Linked DNA regions of Homo sapiens. The protein of the gene in region 3 interacts with the protein of the main gene of each other region in a pairwise test. Each region holds a gene or a part of one and is shown on either strand. Other genes may lie near its edges.

What was found.
Region 1: the proteins of BTNL8 (region 3) and HHLA2 interact in binary tests that used the Homo sapiens proteins (3 or more experiments, as listed by UniProt).
Region 2: the proteins of BTNL8 (region 3) and TFF1 interact in binary tests that used the Homo sapiens proteins (3 or more experiments, as listed by UniProt).
Region 4: the proteins of BTNL8 (region 3) and MILR1 interact in binary tests that used the Homo sapiens proteins (3 or more experiments, as listed by UniProt).

The regions. Positions count from the first base shown.
Region 1 is NC_000003.12:108,292,517-108,299,559, reverse strand, and holds the start of HHLA2 (HERV-H LTR-associating protein 2 isoform a precursor), read right to left. Parts: upstream 3,013-7,043; 5' UTR 2,961-3,012; exon of another isoform or gene 506-2,960; intron 1-505. UniProt on the Homo sapiens protein: Through interaction with TMIGD2, costimulates T-cells in the context of TCR-mediated activation. Enhances T-cell proliferation and cytokine production via an AKT-dependent signaling cascade.
Region 2 is NC_000021.9:42,363,531-42,371,450, forward strand, and holds the start of TFF1 (trefoil factor 1 precursor), read right to left. Parts: upstream 3,006-7,920; 5' UTR 2,966-3,005; coding exon 2,881-2,965; intron 1,583-2,880; exon of another isoform or gene 1-1,582. UniProt on the Homo sapiens protein: Stabilizer of the mucous gel overlying the gastrointestinal mucosa that provides a physical barrier against various noxious agents. May inhibit the growth of calcium oxalate crystals in urine.
Region 3 is NC_000005.10:180,894,502-180,902,161, reverse strand, and holds the start of BTNL8 (butyrophilin-like protein 8 isoform 2 precursor), read right to left. Parts: upstream 3,004-7,660; 5' UTR 2,852-3,003; coding exon 2,803-2,851; intron 1-2,802.
Region 4 is NC_000017.11:64,444,154-64,452,124, reverse strand, and holds the start of MILR1 (allergin-1 isoform Allergin-1L precursor), read right to left. Parts: upstream 3,011-7,971; 5' UTR 2,957-3,010; coding exon 2,902-2,956; intron 2,812-2,901; coding exon 2,770-2,811; intron 1-2,769. UniProt on the Homo sapiens protein: Immunoglobulin-like receptor which plays an inhibitory role in degranulation of mast cells. Negatively regulates IgE-mediated mast cell activation and suppresses the type I immediate hypersensitivity reaction.

The DNA.
Region 1 (7,043 bases), on a different chromosome or scaffold from region 3:
AACTTTCTGTTCCACCCCTGAATTTGCAACTCAGAACATACTACTCTGACGGAATTCTTCATAATCTGACTACTCCTCACCTTTCTCTCCTCCCACCACACTAACAAGATTTCTAAGCTCTGACTCCATCAATTTCACCCTTTTCACTTATTATCTATAATAAATATGTATTATATTTATATAACATTTATATATTTATGTATTATAATAGTTATATGATTATATATATATATTTTTTCTGGGTCTTTTACAAAAGTGATTTAACTTTTTGAGTCTTTTTTTAAACTAAGTTTATTTTCCTTGTTGCCAAGTTGATATAACTACAGAGCTACTAGCTTTGCATGAATGTAATTAGATTAGGAATATAATTTGTCAATTTGGAAATAGAAATATTATCAAAGTTGGTCATAGTAACATTAATTTTGTGTAATTGACAGGATATTGTAGTGATTGCAGTTAAGGAATATAGAGTATGGGACAAAAAGAAAAGGTAAAAGGTTTTCACCTTCAGAAGGTGTTCTTGGTGATGTCTCTAATCTAGGTTAAATTAGATAGAAAGGATCTCATTTCTCGAAGGTGGTGTCTAGGACAGACCTGGATAGCCATGGAGAAGACATCCCACCTGAAACAGAAGTATTAAAGCAAGGAAGCTGCAAGTGTACATTTGCCTATCTCAGGTTTGTATCTTAATCTCTTATCACTTGGGAATTAGTGGTTTGAACTCTAAATGGTAAGCAGCAATGTGCAATGACAGACTCTAAGATTCCAAGATCGAGGACTAAGGAAAAACAAGCCCCCATTCGTTACTCAATTTTAAAATGAGCCTCTGAGGGGACATTTAACAGTATTTACAGAGAGAAAAAATCTGAATCTGCAGTTATTATAACAAGCTGCACCTGCTAACTGCATTCTAGTCTCCAACAGAAAAAGATGCAATACAGTACATTATCTCTGAGACCTGCTGGAAATGAATATCCAGAGAAAAGCAAGCTTCTAAGGGTGAAGCCTATGCTGAAGAAAGAGAAATATGCATTTTACTGAAGATGGTGCAGTAAAAGGGGCCTGCAAATATATACTGGAAACTTTAGTTGGGGCTAAATTAGAAGGATTTTGAACATATAAACACTACAACTGAATACCAAGGAAAGGTGTGTACATGTTATAAAGATAGTATTGTGTTAGAAAGGAGAACCTAAAGTTATAATAAGCCAGAATAGCAGGATTTTTCTGGTGGCATATGTTTATAGCCCCAGTTAAACGGAATGGACTTGGATCCTCATTTTCTTTTCTAGGAGAGTCAGGTCAGAGTCCTAGATAGGGAATACCTAATAGCTAGTCTCATCTGACAGAAGAATAAGGAGGAAGGAATTTCTCTTGAATAGGCAATTGGTCTTCCCAGAAATTAAGTCAGGAAGCAACTGGCTCTTGGATAGCCCCTGGGTCGCTGCTATGCAGATACTTGGAAAAGGGGTATTCATTCCTACTAGGCAGGGGAAAAGTTTGCATGCCTGCAGTCAGAAGTCAGTTAGACAGACATTCAAAGCCTCAAAGAGAATGCTGGTTATGTAACTCAGAACAAACTCTCCACTCCTAGGCAAGTCTCTGGGAATTTAGAGTTGACATGACAACCTCAGGAGGAAAAACACCTTGTTTAATGCTGTACTACGTGACCTACACCGGTCACTGACCAGAGCAAGGAGAAGCCACCCAGAATCACTGGTTAATGATCAAAATATTAAGCTATGGTCTATTTTAAGCACCTGGAGGAAAACTCAACACAGGAATTGGTTTCTTTCCCAGCTCAGGCCAACTGATAGAACATGCTGGTGGGCCACACGCCAAAAGTAGGCAGAGCCTTCATTCATGGATTTATTTAAGAGCCACCAAACTTTCAGGCTACTCAATATGATTATATAGGAAATCATTTGTCTTTTACATCTATATTCTGAAATAATAATATTTATTAAACACTTTCTACATACCAGGCACTTTGCTAAGCACTTTAATAAATTTCATTTAATCTTCACAGCAATACTAGTCTACCCCCATTTTACAGATTAGGAAACTGGCTCTGAGAAAAATATACAACTGGTTAATGATGAAGCAGGTAAATGCACCAAGGATTACTTGACTCTAGAGACTATGATCTTGACCACTACACTTTATTGCATCTTTTGATTAAAATATGCTTATAATGGGATATGACACCAATTTGCCATTCTGGACAGAAATTATTTCCTCCAAGTTTCTAGGAAATGGGAAGCTCAAGTTTGTTTTGTCAGGTACCAGTAACACAAAAAAACCTAAATTACCTGTTCATATTTTTTTCTATTATCCAAAGTCCCAAACAATAGAAACCCAATGAGAATTGAATCTTAACTTTTTGAATCTTGTTTTAGTTATTAAAAAATGACATAAACTTAATGATTCTTCCCTGAGACAGTGGAAATATCTAGGAGACTTCTAAGTTTCTTGTATTAGAATTCAAAGATCACGATTCTTCTGCTAGATAACCACTACTACGGTCCTTTTGTTTCCACCACAGAATGGAACGCAGTGCATCTTGGAGCAGCTAATAAAACTCTGTAGTGTAACTAGATGAACAATTACAAGTAAGAATACACTCTTAGAGATTTTTTTAAAGTTCGCAGATAATTTTCAAAACAAACATTGCTCATCCCTCTTTCACTGTCTTACCAGAATGTTAGGTATTTTCCTCATTTTTGCTAAGTTCTTTTATTTGAAATATATCAGCATGTTCCTTCAAGACAACCTTTTACTAAGTATTTGTTTGGTGCATATGCACAATACATAGTATATGCACTAAATCAATTTAAAAGATCAGTCACTAATTTTTTCCTAACGGGAAAATAAAGTGTCAACTAAAAACCACCCATATTTGATTTATTCATGCCCACTTTTAAGTTCTAGGTATAAACAACTTAGAAAGAAATCCTTACCTTACTTAGAAATTCATACCGTCTAGTCAAATGCTAAGTAGTCCATAAGAATAAACATTGAATTCAGCTATGAGTTTCTCAGAGAGTAAAGTCCAAGGTACGTTTGATTTGCTACCTATGACAGACCAAGGAAATCACATCATCACCAAGGACTCCCTCCTTCAAACTAAGCCCCACCCAGATCTGAGTCAGTACAGATCTGAAAAGTCCAGGAATTAGAAGATGCAGTTTCAGACAACATATTGAAACAGCTAAGCATTGAGCTGTGGGAGCAGTGGACTCTGGTTTCCATGCTATGGTGTCAGCTTCACCATCAACATGATACAGGCAACCTCCTGAGGTTGGACTGCCTGTGACCTGTCTAGCTTGCTGCAGAGTTGTAAAGAAAATTGTGTAGCTGGTTGCAGTGGGTGCCAATAGTTCTGTGAGAAAGAACCATAACCCTACACAAAGTTCATCTGCACCTACAATTCCCATTACAGTTCTGGTCGCTAGAACACCCAAGCTTAAACTCAACTTCAGAGAAATAAAGACCTCTCTGAATTCCACATGGAAAGTTGGGCAGTGCCCAGCCTCTATGCTGTCATATCATTTAATCTCTCTCTCCCTCAGTGTCACATGCATGGCATGCATGCACATACAACAGATGCTAAGAGTCATGCTTTACTCACTATTGTATCCCAAACAACTACCACTTACTTACTAGCACATAGTAGCTGGTCAATATCTGTTTGCTGAGTGCATGGGAGCAAAAGTTACAAAGTGAACAAAAATTACCTTAGGAGGACAATAAACAGGACCCTTCTGTCTGGAACAAAGGATGCCATCCAAGCCTTGGCACAGCACACAAATCCCCTGATCATATAATCATAGGGCCCTGTCTAGCTTTATAGCCTTTCGGCATTACTCACCACATCAACGTTAACCTCCTGCCACACATGCACACTCAGGGGAGAGGGCAAAGTACATTTGGGGAACTCCCCCTCCTCTTCCCCATCTCTTCCTTGACTTCCTTCTTCTCTAGTCAGAGTCATCCATAGTGAGCCTTCTGCTGCCCACTGGAAACTGGGTTGAAAGCGCCAGGGCTCTTCCTAGAATCCCCAAAGTCACCCACGCCAACGTTTTCTTTTTTGTTTGTTTTTGTTTTTCGTTTTTTTTTTTTTTTTTTTTTTTGAGACAGAGTCTCTTTCTGTCGCCCAGGCTGGAGTGCAGTGGCACGATCTCGGCTAACTGCAAGCTCTGTCTCCCAGGTTCACGCCATTCTCCTGCCTCAGCCTCCCGAGTAGCTGGGACTTTCAACCCAGTTTCCAGTGGGCAGCAGAAGGCTCACTATGGATGACTCTGACTAGAGAAGAAGGAAGTCAAGGAAGAGATGGGGAAGAGGAGGGGGAGTTCCCCAAATGTACCTTGCCCTCTCCCCTGAGTGTGCATGTGTGGCAGGAGGTTAAAGTTGATGTGGTCAGTAATGTCCAAAGGCTATAAAGCTAGACAGGGCCCTATGATTATATGATCAGGGGATTTGTGTGCTGTGCCAAAGGCGCCCGCCACCACGCCTGGCTAATTTTTTTGTATTTTTAGTAGAGATAGGGTTTTGCTGGGGTTCCTGGTTTAGCCAGGATGGTCTCAATCTCCTAACCTCGTGATCCGCCCGCCTCGGCCTCCCAAAGTGCTGGGATTACAGGTGTGAGCCACCGCGCCCGGCCGCCAACTTTTATCATTAATAAGATCTATTATGAAATGAAATCAAAATCAAACTGGGACTTAAAAGATGCAGGCAATCCCTGCTTTCACCTCTGAATCTCCATGGCCATGTAGTTAATGGTACATCACACCACTGTAATATTAGTTTAGGGAAATAGCAGAGCTCCTAAAGCATACACATGAGGAGAGCAGACTCTCACGGAATTTGAAAATAGAAGAATTACATATTTTTTGAAGATTTTTGAAGTTTTAGGAAGAAATGCCGTATGCATACAAACATACCTGTTATGCAGAGATTGTTCAAGCTGAAGGTAAAAATAGAATCACGGTTTTAAATAATATCAATGGCTGAGGAAGGAAAGAACAATTTCTCTGAGATTTATGTCACAGAGAAAGTGGCTATGATATGTATGCCATTATTGAAGACTAGATCAACAGTTTTAGGTTACAAACCTTTCCCTTGCAACATATTCTTCATTTCAGGAAGGGGTACCTGAAAGGAAGTAGGATGAACCATTAGGACCCTATATTAGGGGAACCTGTAGGGCCACTGCTTGCAAGAGCTCAACTGTTAGGCTTTGGGATCTGTTACCATTTCAACACCACTTTTGGTTCTCTTCTGCAAAGTGCCTCCACGATGTCTTCAAGTGACTGGGAGAAGAAACGGCATATGAAATATGGTTAATCCTGATTATATCTATGCACATGTACCTACACTAAGGCTCAGGGGAGAATTTAATGTTGGCATTGAACATTTATTAAGTTGGCAAATGTTCTGAGGAAGTAAAAAGTATAACTGTCATGTAACTTGAGGATGTGAGAGCAGCTACCGGTTGCATCCTCAGATCAAATAGGGCTGAAATTAGTCATCCAACTGGAGTCTTTCAGTTGTCGAAATACTGCAGAAGAAAGTGAATTTAAACTCTAAAGCTGAGAGGTGGACAGACATGGCTAAAATGTAGATCTTAAATTGGTCTGACAGGGAGATAAGGAATTACGGTCCTCATATATTAGGCATTTACTGAATCAGTTCAATCAATATTTATTTCCAGCAAAAAAGTCTCCTAATATTTCAGCTATTAAAAACCTTGAGGTGTTAAACTCACATATTCATTTTCCAAGATGCTAAGTGTGGTGCCTGTCATCATTTGTGCATGTCATGCCTTCCTGGCCCATTGTTGCTGTGAAAGGACATAAAGTAATTTAGGCCTAGGCATTAAAGTGGAATTGGAAGATCAAGAGAGGACTGCACTCATACCTGCTAAATGTTAAGCCACAGAAGGTTCCAACAGACTTGGATAACACCTTAAGTCAGAATCCACTGGACTTCAACATCTCTCAGCTGGGAGTACCCTAATTAACTAACAATTCAGAACAGCTCTGCAATTTAGGATTTCTGTCCAGCCAGTGAATTGCCCCTCAAAACAACTTTTTCAAGAAATCTCCTATTAAAAACCTGAACTTGCCTTAAAGGACACTATTTAGTGTTGCCCTAATTCAGTGTACCTGAATTGCAATTCTTTTTTTCCCAAATATACTCTACTTTCTTTGGCATCTGTGTTGATTTTTTTCTTAGTTAATGTAACAACAGAACTGCCACATCAGTGCAGGGACTTCCTGAGGCCTTCTAGATGCTCTCTGTGATCTATTCTTAGTTCTCTGTTTTCCTGGTATTGCTTCATATTCAGGTCTAGAATAGCATCAACCACCTTCAGTTTTGCAGTGAGTTAGCTTTTAAATTGCTTCAAAGTGCTTTCACAACTCTCTTAATGATCATTCTGGGAAACAGCCAGGGTAAGTGATCCTCCTGCTTCATTTAGGATGAAGAAACAGGTGCTAAGAGTGAACAAATGATACACCTAATGAATAAGTGTCAAAGTTGGGCATTACATTAAACATCTGCCATACTCCTCTCACATCCCCTTGGCTCACCTTTTTGTCCTGGACATTGTTGAGGCAACAGGCTCTACACAGGTGCCCTTACCAGCACTTCATCCCAGCTGTACTATGCGTCTGTCTTGCTTGTTATCCCAGGGATTCTCTGCTTTCTAGTGAGACTCCTAAAACAGAGAAAATAAAAACCCTCCAGTGTTAATTTTAGCCTATGGAGGTCAGGCTGTTCCCCTGTTTTCTCTCTGGTTGACAATCCTGAAGTGTCTTCTATGTGGTTCCTTAAAGCATCCCCACCAAGACTAAGCCCCAGTTACCCACAGGCATAGCCAGCTGAACAGCACACTCTTGGATTAGCTCTCCCTCCTTCCTGTTTTACTCTTCTCAAGGGCCCCTCCCCTGTTCCCTGGATTCACTTCCCAAAATAAAATACTTGCTTTTCTCTTGCAAATTTAAGTTCCTTATAGATGGTGGATATTAGACCTTTGTCAG
Region 2 (7,920 bases), on a different chromosome or scaffold from region 3:
AACCCTCAGGACATGAGAGGGAGACGTGGTCCTCACATCCTGATGTGCAAACATTACGCTCAGGGAAAATGCAAGGTGCCCCAGGTTTGTGGACTTTGCATCTTTCTAGGTAACTTATTTATTCACTTTTTAATTTCAACAAATGATTATTAAATTTTACTCAATACATAAATATTTACTGAGCACCATTTGTGTGCATGAGAAGTGGGAGCTAGCATGGCAAAAGCCAGGCACTGTGCCAGGTGAGAGAGACCCAGAAATTAAAACCAGAGAAGTCATTAATAAGAGTCTAAATATCTGGGCCCAGGCTCATGCCTGTAATCCCAGCACTTTGGGAGGCTGAAGGAGGTGAATCACTTGAGGTCAGGAGTTCAAGACCAGCCTGACCAAAATGGTGAAGCCCCATCTCTACTAAAAATACAAAAAATTAGGCGGGCATTGTGGCACACGTCTGTAATCCCAGCTACTTGGGAGGCTGAGGCAGGAGAATCACTTGAACCCAGGAGGCAGAGGTTGTAGTGAGCCAAGATCGCACCATTGCACTCCAGCCTGAGTGACAGAGCAAGACTCCATCTCAAAAAAAAAAAAAAAAGAGTCTAAGGATCTGATGGAGGAGAAAGGCAAGAACATGTGCGAGACAACGCAAGGCCATCGTCCCAGGGTGCCCAGGGTAACCACGGGGGTAGGGCACTCCCCGGAGAGGCCAATGACAAGCAGGTTGAACAAAGCAGGGGGGCTCCCTGCAGGAGGAGGTTCACCAGGTGAAGATGGAGCCGCATGGGCAAAGGCCATTCCAGAGACCCAGGTGTGTTCAGGAGGTGGAAACCCATTGCAGGTAAGGTGAGAGGACCGGGTGGGGTGGTCTAGGAGGAGCCGACAGAGGGTACAAGCTGTGAAACAGCTTGAAGCAGGGCAGTGAGGAAAGGGATCTAGAGGAGGAAGACACGTGGACAGATGGGGCTGGCTGGGGGCTGCCGCAGGATCTTATGCAAGAGGTTCTAACACCAGAGCTTCAGGCTCTGAGCTCCGCGGAATCAAAGGTCTCAGAAAGCAACCTATTAGGATCTGGTGGTTGACAGCCTGCAGCAGGGGGTGAAAGAGGAGCCCAGAGCACCCTCCGGTCCCTGTCCCTGCCTTGGGGCATAGGAGGGGAGGAACTCAGTCTGGCCACACTGGCTCAGGTGAGGGCGCCCCAGGGGAGGCCGAGAGGGGCTGTTCTCTTGTCTGCTTTGCTATCAGGGACTGCCTCGAGATGTCTTTGGAGAAAGTGTTCCTGGCTTGCTGGGAAGGATCCGTGTTCAGCTCCCGCTGCCCAGCAGCTTCCATGGGAACCTTGCCCTCCTGGGGTCTGGATCCATCGCGACGTGAAGGTGATCATCGCCCACCCCCGGGACACTGTGGGGGTCAAGAGAGGCCCCGTGGTGAGGGAGGATCATCATCCTGGGGGTCGGGGGGGTTTCCTCCTCAGGGAGGAAGATTTCCAGCCCCGGTGCTCTGCCTCCGGCAGACTCTGTCTTGCCCACCCGCTTTGTCTTTGTCGCATGATGGAAATAAATGGAAATGGTTTCCACACACGAATGCACTAAACTGTAATCACAATTTTCTAGATTTCAGTTGTAACAGGATCATGGACCTGAGTGACCCGCAAAGACGCTCTGAGCCTTGAGCCAGAGGGTGTGTGGGGTGGGGAGGGGAGTTTGCCACGGCCTCTGTGATCCCACAGCACAGGGGGCAGAGCTGGGGGCTGGGGTGGGGGCAAGGGCGCAGGCAGATGGGCCTGGGGGTGGCCAGCACGGGGACCCACCCAGTTCGTTCTGTACACCGAGGCCACTTCCTCTCTCGGGTTCCAAAGCTCCCCCGCTCCCTGCCATGGGCTTGGGGGTCTTCCCACTGCAGCCCAATGCTGGCTGCTCTTCTACGCTGCCCAAGCCCACCCCTCAGGCCCGGTACCCCACAGCAGAGATCAAGAGGTGGCTGGAGGGCAGTGGGGGCACGGACAGCACCACTGGGCGCTCCCTCTTCAGGCCTCTCTGGAAACCCTTGCTTTGGAAACGTAGAAAGCCCTTTCTCCTGCCCCCACCTTGAAACTGTACCTAATAACGGCAAATAAGTTATTCAGCTCCCCACAGCTGGCAAAGTGCAAGTCGCAGATGCTGCCACACAGCATTTCCTGACAGCCCTAGGGCAGACCGTTGATCCATTCTGCAGGTAAAGGAGTTGAGATGCAAACACTTCCCAAGGAAGCAAGAATGGCCTCCTCCTCCACTCCCTAGAAGGACCCAGGGCAACCGATCCACTTGACAACACCAGGGAATATGGGTTGCCAGCCACGCACTCATGAGAGAGGTGGCTTTGACTCCCAGAGCATGGATCCCAGGGGAGCCCAGGAACCTGTAGGAGAGGGTCTCCCAGTTGGCCACCACTGGGACGGGCATTCGGGCCTGTGGGAGAGGGTCTCCCAGGTGGCCATCACTGGGACCGGCATTTGGGCCTATCTGGATGGGCCTTGGGAGGGTCTGCCCCTGGGGGAGATGTTGGCATGAACAGTCAAAAGCACTATTCTGAGACCCCACGCCAACACTTCCTCTTTGAAACATGACACTTGGGAGGATTGTATAGTCTTCCTAACACAGGAAAACAGCCCCGACTGAAGGCAGCCCCCTCCTCGTCGCACTTCTCGAAGGTCTCCGGGGGCCCTGCCACCCTGAGTTACTCTCCACCTGCTTTTGCCGATCCTGTAAATTGGATATACTTTTAAGGGCCTAGAACAGCACCTGGCACAAAACAGGTGCTCAAAAATATGTATGTAAAACAGTGGCTCCTGGCGGAGGCTGCCAGAGCTGGCTGTGGCCCCACAGAGCAGGAAGAAGCACGCCTTACCTGTCTGGGCCTCGGCCAGGGTGCCGAGGGCCAGCATGGACACCAGGACCAGGGCGCAGATCACCTTGTTCTCCATGGTGGCCATTGCCTCCTCTCTGCTCCAAAGGCGACCCCGAGTCAGGGATGAGAGGCCGCCCGAGCCCCGGATTTTATAGGGCAGGCTCTGTTTGCTTAAAGAGCGTTAGATAACATTTGCCTAAGGAGGCCCGGGGATCCTCTGAGACAATAATCTCCACTGATTTTTATCAAAGGTGTTTCCTAGACATGGTCAAGCTACATGGAAGGATTTGCTGATAGACAGAGACGACATGTGGTGAGGTCATCTTGGCTGAGGGATCTGAGATTCAGAAAGTCCCTCTTTCCCATGGGAGTCTCCTCCAACCTGACCTTAATCCAGGTCCTACTCATATCTGAGAGGCCCTCCCGCCAGGGTAAATACTGTACTCACTGCAGAAGTGATTCATAGTGAGAGATGGCCGGAAAAAGGCTTGGCCGTGACAACAGTGGCTCACGGGGTGGCCACCGTGACCTTGCAGGGGGAAGGGAAGGAGCTCATGAAGCCCATTCCGTCTAGGCCTAAGCTAATTCTTTTACAGTGGAATTGTTTTAATAATGAAATTGTAGGCCTGGCGCAGTGGCTCACGCCTGTAATCCCAACACTTTGGGAGGCCAAAGCAGGCGGATCACTTAAAGTCAGGAGTTTGAGACTAGCCTGGCCAACATGGCGAAACCCCGTCTCTACAAAAAAAAAAAATACAAAAATTAGCCAGGCATGGTGGCGGGTGCCTGTAATCCTAGCTACTCTGGAGGTTAAGTCAGGAGAATCACTTGAACCTGGGAGGCGGAGGTTGCAGTGAGTCGAGATCACCCTACTGCACTCCAGCCTGAGCGACAGATTAAGTCTCCTTCTGGGAGGGGCTGGGGGCAGGAGGGAGAAAAAAATAGTATATACGAGCTGCCATCAAAAACTGACAAAGTGAACGTGGTTCACTCCCCTGTGTCTATGGGGCTCCCTCCCTCCCCCTCCCACACCTTCCCAGTTGGTCCCCTGGACTCCTGTATTTTAGAGGACAGCCTCCTGCTCTCCTGTACCATGCCTCACTCCCCTCCCCTGCTCGGAGCTTTCTCTTTCATAGCTCTTATTACCTCCTGGTGGATAAAACAAGTGACTGACACATTATGTTGGTTATTTATTCATTGCACTCCTCCCTGCAGCAGACGGGAGGGCGCATGGGAGCAGAAGTCCTCATCTCCTAGTGCCTTGAGGTGGCCCCAGACCCTAGAACAGTGGCTTTGATTGGCATTCGAGAAACAGCTGTTGAAGAGCTGCATGAAGAAATGGACAACAGGAGAAATCTTTTCTTCTTCAGTGAGAAATTAGGCCCTGAGGAAAATGCATGCTAGCCTAACAAAGGTACTATCTTTTCTTGGGTGACCTAGTCAGTACATTTCTGCAGCCCCTCTGGGAGGGGAGCCTGGGCCAGAATGGGGGCGGCCATGTTCCTCTTCGCTCCATCCCAGGACCCAGCCCCTCCTCCAGGGCTGCCACTCCTGCACCGGGGTCTCCACTCCTGGGCCAGGGTCTCCAGGAGGGGCCTGACCGCAGGACCCAGGGAGGGGCCGAGGCCTGGTGTCCTCTGTGGTCAGCTTAAGTTTATTGAAAACAGGACGGGGGCACCAGGCCCAGGGTGGTGCTCATAGTGACGGTGGTTTTCGCTGCTCTAATTTCTCGGATCAAAATGGGGGCTCTTGGAAATGGGATGTAAATTGCACAATCATTTGGAGAAAAGGTGGGCAGTGTTCGGTGAGGTTTAAGCCATACAGATTTTACAGCTCAGCAAATTCTTCTGTTTCCAGGCCTGGTCTCTTAATCCCAGAAACATGTTCATACTTGGGCAGAAGAAAACACAGGCAAAGATATTCTTTTTAGCATTGTTTGTAACAGCTGGAAACAGGGAAAGAAGGAAGGAAGGAAAGGAGGGAAAGAAAAGCAAAATAAATATTCATTAACCAGGGAAAGGGAAAATGAACTTAAAATACAATGCAGTCGTCCCTTAGTACCCCTGGGGGACTGGTTTCAGGACCCCCCACCCAGGGATGCCAAAATCCACAAATGCTCAAGTCCCTGGTATAAAATGACATAGTGCGCAGAAACCACGTGCATCCTCTCCTACACTTTAACCATCTCTAGGTTAGTTATAATACCTGATGCAATACCTACACCTCATTTCATTCTGCAGATTCTACATAGTACTTGACTTGCGGCACACCCAAGTTTTGATCTTTAAGATGTTGTAAATAAGATTTTAAAATACTTTTTTTTTTTGAGACAGAGTCTTGCTCTGTCGCCCAGGCTGGAGTGCGGTGGCATGATCTCAGCTTACTGCAACCTCCACCTCCCAGGTTTAAGTGATTCTCCTGCCTCAGCCTCCTGAGTAGCTGGGATTACAGGCATGTGCCACCACGCCCAGCTAATTTTTGTGTTTTTAGTAGAGACAGGGCTTCACCATGTTGGCCAGGCTGGTCTCGAACTCCTGACCTCAGGTGATGCACCCGCCTCAGCCTCCCAAAGTGCTGGGATTACAAGTGTGAGCCACTGTGCCCAGCTGGATTTTAAAACAGTTTTGATCTGACATTACTGGAATCCATGGATGTAGAACCCATGAATATAGAGAACTAATTGCATACATGTATTATACTTTACATATATTATATATGTATGTATGTGAGTATCTTTCAGAAGATGAAAATGAATAAATAATGAGAAATATTGAAAACAAAGCGAAGTGAAAAAATCCGTTAAAATGGTTTGTAAAGTAGGATATCATTTATAATGTAGATTTCCAAACTATGTGAAACAATGTGATATACTGTTGGAACTGCATCCAGATGAACAAAATGATGACAGTGTAGACAGGAACGAGACACTGACTTCAGCATGATGGGTCTGTCTAGGAAGGAGGAAGCAGGAAAAGGTGGCGGGGTAGGGCGCAAAGGGGCCTTCGATGTCTCCGTAATGTTTTCTTTTGTTGAAGAAAATCTGAGGGAAATAAGGTAAAAAGGTTAGCATCCATTAATGAGGGGCAGCGTAGATTCACGGATGTTGTTCTAGCATTCTGTACATGTTTGCAATTGCTTTCTTGGAAAGCCCAGCTCCTATCTCCTTGGGAGAGCTGTGAGATAACTACCAAGTGCCGGAGTTTGGCCTCCCACATTAGGGTTGGAGCGGCTGGAGCTGCCCCCGGGACTCTCCGTTTCTCGGGACAAGAGCTTTATCCCTGTGAGAGTGGGCGGAACCCAAGACCACACCATACATAACCTTATCCATAAAAACTTGTTGAAGACAATTCCAGTGTGGCGAGGGAGAGAATGCAGAGGCAAGCGCCAGTCCATCATCAGTGGGGGACCCTGTGCCAGCATTTTCACAGCTCTGGGTCTTAGTTTTCTTATCTGAAAGACGCAGTGGCTGGGCCACAGGACATCTGAAGACTCCGCACCTCAGACCCTCTCCGGCAGGCATCTATGGCCGTGGGGGCGTCTGTGGCTGTGCAGGCATTGCTTGTTTCCTGCGCCCAGCCGACCTCCCTGCGGTCTGGCGAGAGCCCCTCATTTTCAGTGGGGGGCCCCGCAGCCGCCCAGATTCCCCACAAGGGGGACGCGCAGTTGGGGAGTCAGTCTCCTCCTGACGCTCCCCACCTGCCCGCTGCCCCTGACCTGTGCCTTGGCAGGAGGGGGTTCTGTAGGTGGCCCTGGAGGGAGGGAGGAGTTTGGGAGGAAGTGGATCCGGGCTCTCCTCCAGGATCCCTCCTGGGATCACCTGGGACAGGCCACGTCCCCCTCTCAGCCACAGCCCAGGTGGGCGTCCTCTCCACACACCATCTTCCCCAGGCCCCAGAGCAGACCCCTCACCCCCCTGCCCCAGCCTGGGGGGTTTACCAGCCGCAAGGAGACTTTTACAGTCTTCACTCTCCTCGCATTGCCCAGATCCGCTGTGGTGAAGCCCGTTTCCTGCCAGGCCTCTGGTCAAAAAAGCAACTGCCACCCCAGGGACCCTTTACAAGGACACCCAGCTGAGGCCCTGGGGTTGGGGTCCTCAGGTATTGGAGGAGGCAGGTACTTTCCTGGCCAGGGAACTTGAGGCACAGACCCACAGCATGGAGCGGGACCACATTCCTCAAATTAACCCAGAAGGAGAGGGGAATGATTGGAGTGTGAGGCCAGGCTCCTCCAGGGAGAGTGGCTGAGGCGCTATGCTTCCATGGTGACAGTAGGGCGGTAACCTCGTCAGGTTAGCCAGCTTCTTCCAGAGCCACACACACCCAGAAAGGGAAGAGGAGATCCAGGACTGAGCATGGACGCAGGACGATCAGAAAGGCGTCCTTGGTGGTACACCCTCCAGACACCATCCACTCCCTCCGGACACCGCTCACACCCTCCAGCCACCGCCAACTCCTTCTGGCCACCAATCACACCCTCCGGTCACTGCTCAGTCCCTCCAGTCAGGGATCACTCCCTCCAACGACCACTCACACCCTCCAGCCACTGCTCACACACTACAGCCACCACTCCAACCCTCCGTTCAGGTCTTACATCCTGTGGCCACTGCTCATTCCCTCCAGTCACCACCCACACCCTCCAGCCACTGCCCACACCCTCCAGCCACCGCTCAAACCCTCCGTCCAGGTCCCATATCTGATCACTGCTCACTCCCTCCGGCCACAGCCCACACCCTTCAGCCACCACTCACACCCTCTGGCCACCACTCACTCCCTCAAGCCACCGCTTACTCCCTCTGACCACCCCTCACACCATCTGGCCATTGCTCACACCTTCCTGCCACTGGCCACTCCCTCCAGCCAGAGCTCACTCCCTCCGGCCACACCCTTCGGGTGCCACTCAAAACCTCCGGCCATGGCTCACACCGTCCAGCCACCGCTCATACCATCCAGTCACCACTTATGCTCTCTGGCCACCGTGCACTCCCTCTGACCACCACTCACACTCTCCGGCCACTGCTCACACACTACTGCCACCACTGAG
Region 3 (7,660 bases):
TTGCTGAAAACCAAAGTTGACGTCTTTCTAATGGCCCAGAGAAGAGTATGGGCCATAAAGTCTCCAGTTTGCGGCAATTCGTTAAGGTTTCCTTCAAGCACAATATTATATCAATATTTTATGGCTACTATAGAGGAATGTTACATTTCTGCCCATGGCGCACACAATTATTTGTACTTCCTTAGTTTTTTTTGAAAATCTGCTTGTTCTGCCAAGTTCTGAAAGACATGCTGTGACACTGAAACAAGATTTTGCAGTCTGTTTTCTGTAAATTTGTTCTTTAGCACGTTCACGTGTGACTTATATTTTCCATAGCATGTGCCTTTTACGCTTGTGTAGTAATTTTTTCCACTTTATTTTAGCACTGAAAGGTGGTTCGCCTAGTGCTTTGTCAACATGTCTTGCCTTCATTTTTTTTAAAAAAAATTCTTGGTACATGTATGTCCTCACCTCGCTTTTGAAACTTTCTTCATTGTCTTGCTTCAAGTGTGACAATTACATGTTTTCTGTGAGCCTCCCCTGCACAGCTCTTGGCTCTCTGGGGACAGGGCCTGATTTTCTTGCTCAGCATAGTACCCACTTGATCAGCACAGAGCCAGTCACACAGAACAGGCTCCACAGTTATGCATGTGAACGGTGAGCCCCATTTCCTTTCTTACTTGCTCATCTGTTTAACAATCATTTGAGTAATTTTCCTGGTGTAAATCACTCTTACTACCCTGTAAGGATTACACTGCTTCTTAGAGACCACAGACTATGGAGGCCCACTCCCTTCACCTTCTAAGTACCCACCCCCTTTGACTGGCAGTGTCTCTTGATTCATTCACATGTATCCATTTATGGTATATGGATATACCTGTGTGTGCTGTCTGCATGTGCATCAGAGGGAAGGTGAATTACATGTGTGAATTTCTAGATCAGTGGATACTTTTTCATTTTAGCACTAATTTTTTAGTTTAATTACATTTTATAAATCTTGCTGAAATGTATTTCACTCATGCATCTTTAAGAGTATTATTAAATGAGGCATGACTTTGCAGCCTGGTGTCTGACCAGCTTCTGACCTGGTGTAGCAGATGTTGAGGCCCTGCTCCTCACCACCCAACCCTGAGTCCCCCTGCAGTGGGATGGGCATTTCCCTGCCTGCTGACAGCTCCGTCCCTGGAGCCTGGCCTCTGCCTCTCTGCTGAGGGCTTCCTGCCACCCTTGGAACCTACTTAGCCCTGGCACAAGGCAGCTCAGAAGGTTTGCGATTTTAGCAGTCCTGGGCGGCACATCTCACCCAGTGGGGAAAGGAGACAGTAGATGTTGGAATGACTCTGAGCCACCATCTATAAAGTTCCTCCAAAGGTCCCAGTGGGACTGGGTCCCAGTTGCCACCGCAGCAACGCTCATTAGCGCACCCTCTATGGCTTTCCCCCTACTGGCTTCACTCTCTCCACTCCCTCACTTTGTTTCCCAGAATCACCTGCTCAACGAATCACTGGCAGGAAGGCCCTTGTCTTAGGTCAGGTTTGGGGACCCAGCGTATGCCAGCTGGGCTGCTATGGATGCTGCCTTCAGGGCTGTGTGGGGCTCTTGAGGCAAGGAAACATTTTTCAGGGTACCTCCATTTCTCCGGCCAGCCCTTGCTGCTGTCACCTCTCTTGCCTATAACATCTCCTTTCACTCCTTCCACTTCCTTCCCTTGAAAATAAGAAAGGAACAAGACTGTTGCTGCAACATGCCATGCACCCGTGCAGCTGTGTGCACTCTACATGCACAAGCTCATGCAGTCCTCACCACAGCCCCAGCAGGAATGTGATCGTATCTCCATGTCATCATAAGCAAACCAACACCTAAGGAAGCTGTGAACAATAAAGCTCACAAGAAAATGAAATAAGAGTTTTTAAAAATAAAATGTTTCTGTCTCCAAGATCATTTCCAGGATGTCCTGCTGCCTCACCCGGAAACAGAAGGGAAACAAAGAAGCTCGTCAGAAAATAAATGAAAACAAACTGAAACGAGAGCGTCTCCTGTTAGTAACACATATGGGTTTTTGTTTTAAGGAAACATGCTCTATGTTTTGATTGCCCTTATTTCTGTTTTCTTAGCTTCATTTAGCAAAAAAGATATAGGTGGACAGGTGGCAGGATGAACCTTCACAGACAGAAAGTGAACACAGTCAATCGAATCTTCTGTGGCTGGGTACTGACCATCTAGCCACCAGCATTCTACCCCAACCTCAAGCTTCCTCTGTGAATTGTATTCAGTCACTCAACATCCTATATACTAGGTTCTGTGTTAACAGTAACTGGAAGGAGAAAGAAGAGTGGATTTCTTCCCAGAATATGCCAGGTTTCAGCTAATTTCTCACCTCAAGACCTGTACACCTTCCTCCACCCTCGTGTCTCATACCACAGACATTTCTAACTCAGCATGTCTTTAGCTGGATACATTGTCTTTTCCCCAAAAATCCTAACTGTGTCTCTTCCCAGATGGACATCCATGTCAGCAACCTTGGTGCTCCAATAACCCTGCCTACACCACTCAGCCCATCTGGGAGAAACACTGAATTTATTCACCTTAACACGTTAGGTGTGTCCCCGTCAACGATCACGGTGCGTCTTCAACACCCGTGTTTCCATTATTTGGGGGCTACTATAATTGTTTCCACAGCGCCTGATCCTTCCCCAGGCTGAGGCTAGGAGAAGCCAAAGGAATGGAAACGACAAAGATGCCTTCATTCCATTATGCTGCAACCATTGTAGCTAAAGAACTCAAACTGTTAGTTAGTAAGGAGGAAACAAAGATGAGTCTTACCTGATCCCAGCTTGAGGAGACTCAGAACCAAACTGAGCATGAGAGCCATGGATGTGTTCTGTGAATGGACCTCACGGCATGGAAACGGATGACAGGAGAGGTGACGGATGGATTAGAGAGAAGAGGAGAACTGGCCTAATGCTCAAGGTGCGGAAGCCACGGAGAGGCTCTGCGTGAGCGGAGGGCAAACTGCGCTGTTCTGAGAGTCTACTCCATCGAGACACAGCTGTCATGTACCAGAAGTGTAGGGACTCTAGACTTTGAACCACTGCATAAATGTCTATATCTTATCAAGGAAGCAAAGATAGAAATAGTGTGGATAAGATTGGAGGTGAACTTTGTCCTGGGCAAAACGATGCCCTGTGTGGGTGAAACAGGAATGTCAGATGCGGAAATACTTTTCACGTCCAATCTGGCAGGCAGGGCTGTATGGCCATGGGATCTAGTCCTGAAAAACCTCATGTTAGCACTGGATAGTTTGGTGTCCAAGTAAATAGGCCATGCTCCATTAGTAGTAGCCTACAGCAGGTGACTTGACATTTCCTGGCACAGTCTGAGGTCCTTTTGCTTACCCCTCCATTCTCTGAAGTTCAGGGCCAGGACTGTAATCATGAGGCCAGATAAAAATAACTTTCCAGAACAAAACAGATCCTTAGTGTTAAACATCTGATACATTGGGAAAGGTGCCTGGGCAGGTTCAGACATGAGGAAACTTATTTATTATATAAACTAAGTTCCAGGGCAGCCACAATGAGAGATTTGCAGTCTTTTTAAGCACACGGAAACTCACAAAGTCACCACTTAACTAGATCAGAATGAAAATTTCCACAGATAACCATCAAAATAAACATACTCTAATCATAATGCAATTAAAATTAAAAAGTAATTCAAAAACATAGGAAACTCTATACACTAAGAAATTCTTATGTAACAATTTAAAACAACTCACGAGACTAAATCACAATAAAAGTTAGCATCTAGAATAGGACAAAATGAAAACACTGCATTTAGTCTAAAATCTAGAACACTGACAACACCAAATGCTGGTGAGGATGCGGAGCAACAGGAATTCTCACTGATTGCTGACAGGAATGCAAGACGGTACGGTTGTTCTAGAAGACAGTTCAGCAATTTCCTGCAAAATTAAACATACTTTTATCACCTAATCCAGCAACTGCACTGCTTTTTATTCACCTAAATGACTTGAAAACATATGTCCACATGAAAAATTGCACATGAATGTTTATAGCAGCTTTATTCATAATTGCCAAAAATGTTTGCAACCAGATATCATTCAATAATGATACATAGAATGTATACACAAACTATGGTACATCTATACAATGGAATATTACTCTGTGATAAAAAAAAAAAGGAAATGAGTTGTTGAATGTTGTAAGCAAGAGAGTAGAATAGAAAATTATTGATCTCATGCTGTCTCAGAAATACAGATTTACCAAGGATATATAGACCAAAATACCTTTTTATGAAGCTGCTGAGAAGGCACAGTATCCTCTCCATTCCAGTGGCAGCTATGCCCCACCCATGGCCATTCGAAGCCTAGGCCTAGGCCCAGTGGAACGGTCATGACCCAGGCTTCTGAACCTACAGGCTGCTCTGGCCCCCAAGGACCAAACAGTCCAACCCAGCAAGGAAGCCAAGCCTGGCCTGGTGAAGCAGTTGTACCCTCTCAAGCATGAGCCAAGCACCTTGACCCCAGAGAAGCATGCGCAATAGAATGGCAACAATACCCCCTTGTGTGCACACTAACTGGGGGCCCCAGACTCAGCCCCAGGAAAGCAATGTCTGAGATGGTGGAGCAGCTGTGCTCCCTTGGCACATAAAGCGGCCTGGTGCCCCACCTCCAGAAAAGCTATGCCCAAGCCAGAACACTGGTCTTATTCCCTCAGCACACAAACCAGCCCTGCATCCCACCCGAGGGAAGCTGTACCTGAGCTGGTGGAGTAGTTGTGCTCTCTTGGTGCCTGAGCTCAGTGTAATCTACTTTGCTACCACCACTCCCACAAATTACTGCAGTACGGGCCACTGAGGCATCCACTTGTCACTGACATTGATTATAGCTGAGAAGCTTCACAGAGACTACGCTACTGTGCCAGCCAGAAGCAGAGCCGATACACCCTACTCAGCACCCGAGGACCTATCAACAAGTGAAAGTTTTTTCTTAGAAAAGCTACTTTATAAGTTAGGAGAGGCAAATGTTCTACCAGATGCACATATATCAACACAGGGACACAAGAAACATGAAAAAGCAAAGAAACATGACTCTCCCCAAAAAGGCTGAGGCAGGAAAATCACTTGAATCTGAGAGGTGGAGGTTGCAGTGAGCCGAGATCGTGCCACTGCACTCCAGCCTGGTTGACAGAGTGAGACTCCATCTCAAAATAATAATAATAATAATAATAATAATAATAATAATATAACATTTTTAAAAGTCAGCAAGATTTGAACTAGAAATACCATTTGACCCAGCCATCCCATTCCTGGGCACATACCCAAAGGATTATAAAACATGCTGCTATAAAGACACATGCACACGTATGTTTATTGCGACACTATTCACAATAGCAAAGACTTGGAACCAACCCAAATGTCCAACAATGATAGACTGGATTAAGAAAATGTGGCACATATACACCATGGAATACTATGAAGCCATAAAAAATGATGAGTTCATGTCCTTTGTAGGGACATGGATGAAATTAGAAATCATCATTCTCAGTAAACTATCGCAAGGACAAAAAACCAAACACTGCATGTTCTCACTCATAGGTGGGAATCAAACAATGAGAACATGTGGACACAGGAAGGGGAACATCACACACCGGGGCCTGTTGTGGGGTGGGGGGAGGGGGGAGGGATAGCATTAGGAGATATACCTAATGTTAAATGACGAGTTACTGGGTGCAGCACACCAACATGGCACATGTATACATATGTAACAAACCTGCACGTTGTGCACATGTACCATAAAACTTAAAGTATAATTAAAAAAATAAAAAATAAATAAAAAATAAAAAGTCAGCAAGATTCAAGATAATATAGATAGACTATTGAAAGAAATCAGGAAAAAAAAATCATGGTATAAATTAGAAATTCAGCAAAGAAATAGACATCAAGAAAAATTAAACAGATGTCTTGCCATTAGATTATTCAATGAAGGAAATGAAAAAATACAATAGAGAGCTTCAATGGCAGACTAGATCAAGCTTAAGGACAAAAATAAAGTGAAAAGAAAGAATTTTTTCATGCAAACGGTAAAAAAAGAAAGCAGGGGTGACTATATTTATGTCAGATAAAGTAGGCCAGAAGTCAAAAACTGTTACAAGAGACTAAGATTGTCTTTAAGTAATAATAAGCAAATAAGTTAATCAGACTGTAACAATTATAAATATGCAACCAACATCAAGGTGTGTAAACATATAAAGCAAATATTAGTGGACATGAGGAAAACATAGCAAAACAAAAATACTGGGGAATTTCAATACCCCTTTATTATTATTATTATTATATTTTAAGTTCTGGGATACATGTGCAGGAAGTGCAGGTTTAGGTATATATGTGCCATGGTGGTTTGCTGCACCCATCAAACTATCATCAACATTATGTAATTCTCCTAATGCTACCCCTCCCTCCCCTAGCTCCCTACCCTCCGACAGGCCCTGGTGTGTGATGTTCCCCTCCCTGTGTCCATGTGTTCTCATTGTTCAACTCCCACTTATGAGTGAGAACATGCACTGTTTGGTTTTCTGTTCTTGTGTTAGTTTGCTGAGAATGATGGTGTCCAGCTTCACCCATGTCTCTGCAAAGGACATGAACTCATCCTTTTTTATGGCTGCATAGTATTCCATAGTATATATGTGCCACATTTTCTTTATCCAGCCTATCATTGATGGGCATTTGGGTTGGTTCCAAGTCTTTGCTATTGTGAACAGTGTCACAATAAACATATGTGTACATGTGTCTTTATAGTAGAATGATTTGTAATCCTTTGGGTATATACAGTAATGGGATTGCTGAGTCAAATGGTGTTTCTTGTTCTAGATCCTTGAGGAATCGCCACACTGTCTTCCACAATGGTTGAACTAATTTACACTCCTACCAACAGGCTAAAAGCATTCCTATTTCTTCACATCCTCTCCAGCATCTGTCATTTCCTGACTTTTTAATGATCACCATTCTCACTGGCACAAGATGGTATCTCATTGTGGTTTTGATTTACATTTCTCTAATGACCAGTGATAATGAGCTTTTTTTCATGTTTGTTGGCCATATAAATGTGTTCTTTTGAGAGGTGTCTGTTCATATCCTTCACCCACTTTTTGATCAGATTTTTTTTTCTTGTAGATTTGTTTAACTTCTTTGTAGATTCTGGATATTAGCCCTTTGTCAGATGGATAGATTGCAAAAATGTTCTCGCATTCTGTAGGTTACCTGTGCACTCTGATGATCATTTCTTTTGCTGTGCAGAAGCTCTTTAGTTTAACTAGATCCCATTTGTCTATTTTGGCTTTTGTTGCCATTGCTTTTGGTGTTTTAGTCATGAAGTCTTTGCCCATGCCTATGTCCTGAATAGTATTACCTAGGTTTTCTTTTAGGGTTTTTATGGTTTTAGGTTTTATGTTTAAGTCTTTAATCCATCTTGAGTTAATTTTTGTAATAAGGTATAAGGAAGGAATCCAGTTTCAGTTTTCTGCATATGGCCAGCCAATTTTCTAACACCATTTATTAAATAGGGAATCCTTTCCCCACTGCTTGTTTTTCAACAGGTTTGTCAAAGATCACATGATTGTAGATGTGTGGTGTTATTTCTGAGGACTTGTTCTGTTCCGTTGGTCTA
Region 4 (7,971 bases), on a different chromosome or scaffold from region 3:
TCTAATTTTTAAAAAACAAAACAGAACAAAAAAAAAAAAAAACATAGCTGGGACCAATGGATGGCTTGGGTGGAAGACAGATTTAGACTCTTCAAAAATGCTTTTAAAAATGCAGTAAACTCTCCTCCCACTCTTTGATCTGGACAATTAACATTTTCTCAGTCTTATATAAGCTCAACTTTTTTTTTTTTTTGAGACAGAGTCTCACTCTGTTGCCCAGGCTGGAGCGCAGTGGCACCATCTTGACTCACCACAGCCTCCACCTTCCAGGCTCAACTGATCCTCCTGCCTCAGCCTCCTGAGTAGCTGAACTATAGGCACACACCACCATGCCCAGCTAATTTTTGTAGTTTTGGTAGAGACAGGGTTTCACCATGTTGTCCAGGCTCGTCTTGAACTCCTGACCTCAAGTGACTGCCTGCTTCAGCCTCCCAAAGTGCCGGGATTACAGGTGTGAGTCACTGTGCCCCGCCATATAAACTCAACTTTAAGACAAGACCTAAACTACCTTTCCAACCAAATAGCCATCCCTAAGTTTTTTTTATCTAGGAATGCTAGAGCTTTTGTGGCCAGTAAACATGAAAAAGATGCTCAACTTCACAAGTAATGAGGCAACTGCAAATTAAAACAACACTGAGATATCATTTTTCACTCATCAGATTGGTACAAAGTTTAAAAATGATTGGCCAGGCATGGTGGCTCATGCCTGTAATCCCAGCAATTTGGGAGGCTGAGGCAGGCAGATCTCTTGAGTCCAGGAGTTCGAGACCAGCCTGGGCAAATGGTGAAACCCTGTCTCTACTAAAAATACAAAAATTAGCTGGGCATGATGGTGCGTACCTGTATGGCACTACTCAGGAGGCTGAGGTGGGAGGATCAATTGAGCTTGGAAGGTCGAGGCTGCGGAAAGCTAAGATCGCACCACTGCACTCCAGCCTGGGCGACAGAGCAGAGACTCTGTCTCAAAGAAAGAAAGAAAAAAAAAAACCCTAAATAAAATTTAAAAGTAAAAGTGATTATATCCACCACTGGGGAGTGGGTGGGGAAACTCACCCACCGTTGGTGACTGATAGGATACGATCAGCCTTGTTGGGAGGGCAACTTAGCAGGGTCTGTAACAATTTAAATGTGTATGCCCTATGACCTTGCAATTTCAATTCTAGAATTTCATTCTACAGAGATGCTTTCAAGCTCTCATGCATCCACAAAGGACGTTGTGTACAAGGATGTTTATTGTAGCATTGTTTATATTGCCCCCAAAAAGCAGGGCAATAAATAAGGATGGTTAAACGAATCATGGCTGAGTCTTAAAATACCATGCAGCTGTTGAAAAAGAGGAGCTAAGGCTGGTGTGGTAGCTCATGCCTGTAACCCCAGCACTTTGGGAGGCAGAGGCAGGAGGATCACGAGGTCAAGAGTTCAAGAACAGCCTGGCCAACATGATGACACCCCGTCTCTACCAAAAAACAATACAAAAATTACCCAGGCATGGTGGCACGTGCCTGTAATCCCAGCTACTCGGGAGGCTGAGGCAGGAGGATCCCTTGAACCCAGGAGGCGGAGGTTGCAGTGAGCCGAGATTGTGCCACTGTACTCCAGCCTGGGCAACAAGAGTGAAACTCTGTCTCAAAAACAAACAAACAAAAAAAGATAACGAATATAAAGTGACTGTTGATAACGGCTGCTTCTGGATAGGAAGGGGAGAAGAATTGGAGGAGGATTGTAACAGAACTTTTACATTTTATACAGTAACAACCACCACCTTGGCTATCACTTACGGATGGTTTACCATATGCCTGGCACTGTGACGAGGAGCAGGGATTGTCTCATTTGATCTGCACACTAGCCTACCAGGTAGGTGCTTTTATTAGCCCACTTCACAGATGAAATAAATTACAGTGTCTCACGCCTGTAATCCCAGCACTTTGGGAGGCCAAGGTGGGCGGATCACGAGGTCAGGAGATCGAGACCATCCTGGCTAACGATGTGAAACCCCGTCTCTACAAAAAATACAAAACATTAGCCAGGCTTGGTGGCACACGCCTGTAGTCCCAGCTACTCGGGAGGCTGAGGCAGGAGAATCACTTGAACCTGGGAGGCAGAGGTTGCAGTGAGCCGAGATTGCACCACTGACTCCAGCCTGGGCGACAGACTGAGACTCCATCTCAAAAAAAAAAAGAAAGAAAGAAAGAAAGAAAGAAATTAAGGTCAAACTGGGTATGTCATGAGCTCAGGCTGCTGGCTAGTAACTAGTAGAACCAGAGGTTAGACCACTTCCCAATGTATATTTCTAGTGTTGCTTGAATTATTTCACAATAATTCTGTGGGTTTTTTTATTTTGTTTTATTTTTTTAAGAAACGAGGTATCACTATGTTGTTCAGGCTGGTCTCAAACTCCTGAGCTCAAGCAATCCTACCCCATTAGCCTTCCAAAGTGCTGCGATTACAGGCCGGAGGCACCACACCCAGCCTGTGTGTTGGCTTTCTAGTTAAAACACAACAACCATAAAACAACAATAACAAGGAAAGTTAGAAAACTTTCATTGTGAAAACAAATTTCATTATTTTTCTCACTGAGTCTCAGAAAAAAATGCTGCAATCCCCTCCCTAAAATCATTTTATTTTAAATGATAGATAATTGAAAAGACTGTTCTTTGGTTGTTCATAAAAGCTCAGAAACACTTTTGAATGGACGCTTATGTTGCAATCAGACTGTCTCACCACTTCAGTGAAAATGGTTTCAATAAGAAAGAAGTAAATGAAACTTACCATTTGTTTTCATTGCCTCACAATCCAATACAGCTTTTCTACCTGAAACAGAAAAGGAACACGATAAAGCTCACTTTCCACATGACACGTTGGCTTGGAGGTTCGAGCCTCAGAATGATAAGGGGGGCTTACAAGTGACAGAAGAAAATATGCTCCAGAAGAGGAGCCTGTTCAAATGGCTCCACATTCTCCCAGTTGAAGTCCAAGACGGGGTCAGAAGGCATAGTAGAACCACAGTGGTGAGTAACTCGGAGAACTTCCTCTTTTTCTTAGCCAAGTTAAGGAAATCAGAGGGTTTGGATGAGGTTTGCATAATACTGGTTTGTTCGACCAATCTGTCTTCCTCTGTGAGTTCCTGTAAGAAGAGAGATATTTGGTAGATTGCCACTCCCCCGCCCCCCCCACCCCCCCACACCCCCACATCGTCCCATGCTGGCTGGGAAAGAGAAGAGGTAAATCTGACTGTTACATTGTCTATGTAAACCCATCTGATCTCCTTGCTCTGGACTCAGTCTATGCCAAAAGGAGTTTGGTGGAAGTTTGATTTAGTCTTTGGAAGCAAACCGACTGTCTTAAGCAGATACATACAAATATTGTATCAAAAATGCCTGCTTTTTTTTTTTGAGACTGGCCTCACTCTGTCACCCAGGTTGGAGTGGAGTGCTGTGATCATAGCTCATTGCAGCCTCAAACTCCTGGGCTCAAGTGCTCGTCCCACCTCAGGCTCCTGAGTAGCTGGGACCACAGGTGTGCACCATCAGGACTGGCTAATTATTTTTATTTGTAAAGACAGGGGTCTAGTTGCCCAGGCTGGTGTTAAACTCCTGAGCTCAAGTGATCCTCCCGCCTCAGCCTCCCAAAGTGCTGGGATTACAGGTGTGAGCTACTGTGCCTGGCCAAAAATGCCTGCTTTTGTTAAACGTTGATTCCTAGACCCCACTCCAGACTTACTGGGTTTCAAGTCCAGGACGCTGATTTTTTTTTTTTTAAACAAGGGCCCTGAGCAATTCTTACGCACAGTGAAGGCTGAGAAATATCTGTACAAGGTGCTGCTGCCTCAGTGATTTCTGAATCAAGGGAGCCTTGGGGACTTGATATTACGGCAAGCCCTCCAGTGCCAGGAGATCTGAAGTAGGAGTTACCTTAGATCAGCCTTTGAAATAGAACGTGCAGGCTGGGTGCGGTGGCTCATGCCTGTAATCCTAGCACTTCGGAAGGCTGAGGCAGGCGGATCACCCGAGGTCAGGAGTTTGACACCAGCCTGGCCAACACAGCGAAATCCCATCACTAGTAAAAATACAAAAAACTTAACTGGGTGTGGTGATGCGTGCCTATAATTCCAGCTACTTGAGGGGCTGAGGCAGAAGAATCGTTTGAACCCGGGAGGTGGAGGTTGCAGTGAGCCAAGATTGCACCACTGCACTCCAGCCTGGGTGATAGAGCAAAACTCTGTCTCAAAAAAAAAAAAAAAAAGTCAGTTGAAATAGAATGTGCAGAGCCACTTCTTGATGGAGTGGAGATCACCAAAAGGATAGAAAGGTATGACTATAGGGCTAGGTGGGCAAGACAGCTGGTTGACACTTGCAAGAATTGACAGGTCCACCAAGAGAGGAAGCAAGGAGTTGAATGGCTGGGGCAGCCTTGAGCTGGGACATTCATCTCTGTACCTTAGGTCCCAAGATGTAACCAAATCCTTCCTTATTGACTCAGCGTCACCTAGCTAGCATCCTCTAGCTAGGAGGTTTGATACTGAATCTTGCTCTGTCTCCCAAGCTAGAGCACAGTGGCACCATCTTGGCTCACTGCAATCTCCACTTACCAGAATCAAACTATCTTTCCACCTCAGCCTCTCTAGTAGCTGGGACCACAGGCACAAACCACCATACACTACTAGGTTTTTAACTTTTTTATAGAGATGAAGTCTCACTATATTGCCCAGGCTGGTTTTGAACTCCTGGGCTCAAGCGATTCTCCTGCGTGTGGCCTCCAAAAGTGCTAGGATTACAAGCATGAACCACCATGCCCCACCCTTACTACAACAACTTTACAGCACTTTATAAAAGTTTGGATGGGTGAACTGTCAGATACATGTGCAAAATTCCATCAACTTTTTCTTTTCTTCACGTCTGCAATGTTTTTCATCAGCATCCTGTCACTTTTTGGCTACCACTGCTGGCCAGCTGGAAAAGAACAGACAACCATAGAATCATTCCCCGCACCCACATTTTCTTTCTCTCTCTTTTTTTTTTTTTTTTTTTGAGATGGAGTCTCGCTCTGTTGCCCAGGCTGGAGTGCAGTGGCGCTATCTCGGCTCACTGAAACCTCCACCTCCTGGGTTCAAGGGATTCTCCTGCCTCACCCTCCCAAGTAACTGGGATTACAGGTACGTGCCACCACACCTGGCTAAATTGTGTATTTTTAGTAGAGACGGGATTTCACCCCATTGGCCAGGCTGGTCTCGAACTCCTGACCTCAGGTGATCTGCCTGCCTCGGCCTCCCGAAGTTGTGGGATTACAGGCGTGAGCCACTACCCCCGGCTCCACATTTTCATATAGACCCATGGAAATGGTTTCTCTATCAGATCCAGTACAAATTGCAGACAAGTCTGGCAATGGAAAAAATATATATTGGCAACTTCTAGTATTTTCAAACTGGAGTAATAGCTGCAGTGGCGCCATCTCGGGCCACTGCAACCTCCACAGTTCCCAGGTTCCCAAGTAGCTGGGATTACAGGCACTTGCCACCACGCCCAGCTAATTTTTTTAATTTTTACTAGAGATGAGGTTTCGCCATGTTGACCAGGCTGGTCTCAAATTCCTGATCTCAAGTGATCTACCCACCTCAGTCTCCCAAAGTGCTGAGACTACAGGCATGAGCCACTGCACCTGGCCTCACACATTCTATTTCAAAGGCTGATCTGAGTTTACTCCTACCTCAGTTCTCCTGGCACTGGAGGGCTTGCCATAATAACAAGACTTCAAGGCTGCCTTGATTCAGAACTGCACTTTTGAAAGACACTGTCTCAAAAAAAAAAAAAAAAGAATTTTTAATGGTGATGTAGAAGAACATTTCATGATGTGGTAAGAGAATCACAATATACTTAAGAAAAGAGAAAAGGTATTATTAACAGTTGTAATAACATAAATCATTTTTCTAAATAAGAAAGTGCATAATTTGTATACATAGAAAAACTATCTGGAGGCCGGGCACAGTGGCTCATGCCTGTATTCTCAGCACTTTGGGAGACTCATAATGAGACTTTGTCTCTAAATTAAAAAAGGAAAAGAAAGGAAAGGAAGAAAGAAAGAAAGAGAAAAACTATCTGGAAGGATATTTTCTCAAAATGTTAACAATAGCTATATCTGGAGAGTAGAATGTTATTTTTATTTTTTTTATTATTATACTTTAAGTTCTAGGGTACATGTGCACAATGTGCAGGTTTGATACATAGGTATACATGTGCCATGTTGGTTTGCTGCACCCATAAACTCATCATTTACATTAGGTATTTCTCCTAATGCTATCCCTTCCCTAACCCCCAACCCCCCGACATGCCCCAGTGTGTGATGTTCCCCTCCCTGTATCCAAGTGATCTCATTGTTCAATTCCCACCTATGAGTGAGAACATGTGGTGTTTGGTTTTCTGTCCTTGTGATAGTTTGCTGAGAATGATGGTTTCCAGCTTCATCCATGTCCCTGCAAAGGACATGAACTCATCCTTCTTTATGGCTGCATAGTATTCCATGGTGTATATGTGCCACATTTTCTTAATCCAGTCTATCATTGATGGACATTTGGGTGGGTTCCAAGTCTTTGCTATTGTGAATAGTGCCACAATAAACATACGTGTGCATATGTCTTTACAGTAACATGATTTATAATCCTTTGGGTATATACCCAGTAATGGGATTGCTGAGTCAAATGATATTTCTAGTTCTAGATCCTTGAAGAATCACCACACTGACTTCCACAATGGTTGAACTAATTTACACTCCCACCAACAGTGTAAAAGCGTTCCTATTTCTCCACATTCTCTCCAGCTTTTATTTTCTTATTCTAGCTCCTCTTTCTTTTTTTTCGAGATGAAATCTTGCTCTTGTCCCCCAAGCTAGAGTGCAACGGCATGATCTTGGCTCACTATAACCTCTGCCTCCTGGGTTCAAGCAATTCTCCTGCCTCAGCCTCCCAAGTAGCTGGGACTACAGGTGCCTGCCACCACGCCTGGCTAATTTTTGTATTTTTAGTAGAGACGGGGTTTCACCATGTTGGCCAGGCTGTTCTCGAACTCCTCAGGTGATCCGCCCTCCTTGGCCTCCCAAAGTGCTGGGATCACAGGCATGAGCCACTGCGCCTGGCCGCTCCTCTTTCAATTATTTCTTTCTGCATTAATATTCCTATTATGGAGAAGGAGGAAAGATGGGATAATGGCAGACCTTGACAACACCTTTCCTTGGTCCTCCATAAGGAGAAAGAGCCTCCTCTAAGCCTGGTAGTATGGTGCACTGAGTGAGGACAGGAGGTTGGGACATTTCCCAGAGGCTTGGGTTCAAAACCACTGAGGTATTGAGAAAGATAAAGTAACTTTTACATGAAAGATAAAAACAAGATCCTTTCCTCAAAAGACCTACCTGGAGCCCATACTTGCCCTCAGGCAACCCATAGGCTTGCAACAACAGTGTCTATTTTTTTTTTTTTGAGACAGAGTTTCACTTTTGTCGCCCAGGCTGGAGTGGAATAGTGTAATCTCGGCCTACTGCAACCTCCGCCTCCCCGCCTCCCCAGTTCAAGCGATTTTCCTGCCTCAGCCTCCCAAGTAACTGGGATTACAGGCATGCACTACCATGCCTGGCTTATTTCTTATTTTTAATTGAGATGGGGTTTCACCATGTTGGCCAGGCTGGTTTCGAACTCCTGACCTCAGGTGATCCCCCTGCCTCGGCCTCCCAAAGTGCTAGGATTACAGGCGTGAGCCACCACGCCTGGCCAGTGTCTATTTCCTTAAGAAAAAAATATGTGTTTTTTTCCTTAAGAAAAAAAATTATAAAAATCGAAACAGCATACAAAATCCAAAGAAAATATCCAATAGGCATGAATATAATTCATTTCCGCTTGTCCCTGCCCCCAGGAATGTCTTTAGCACCCCGTCCCCTGCATACATTCTTTGTTGGGTATAGCATGCATTGTTAGAAGCAGTTTATCAT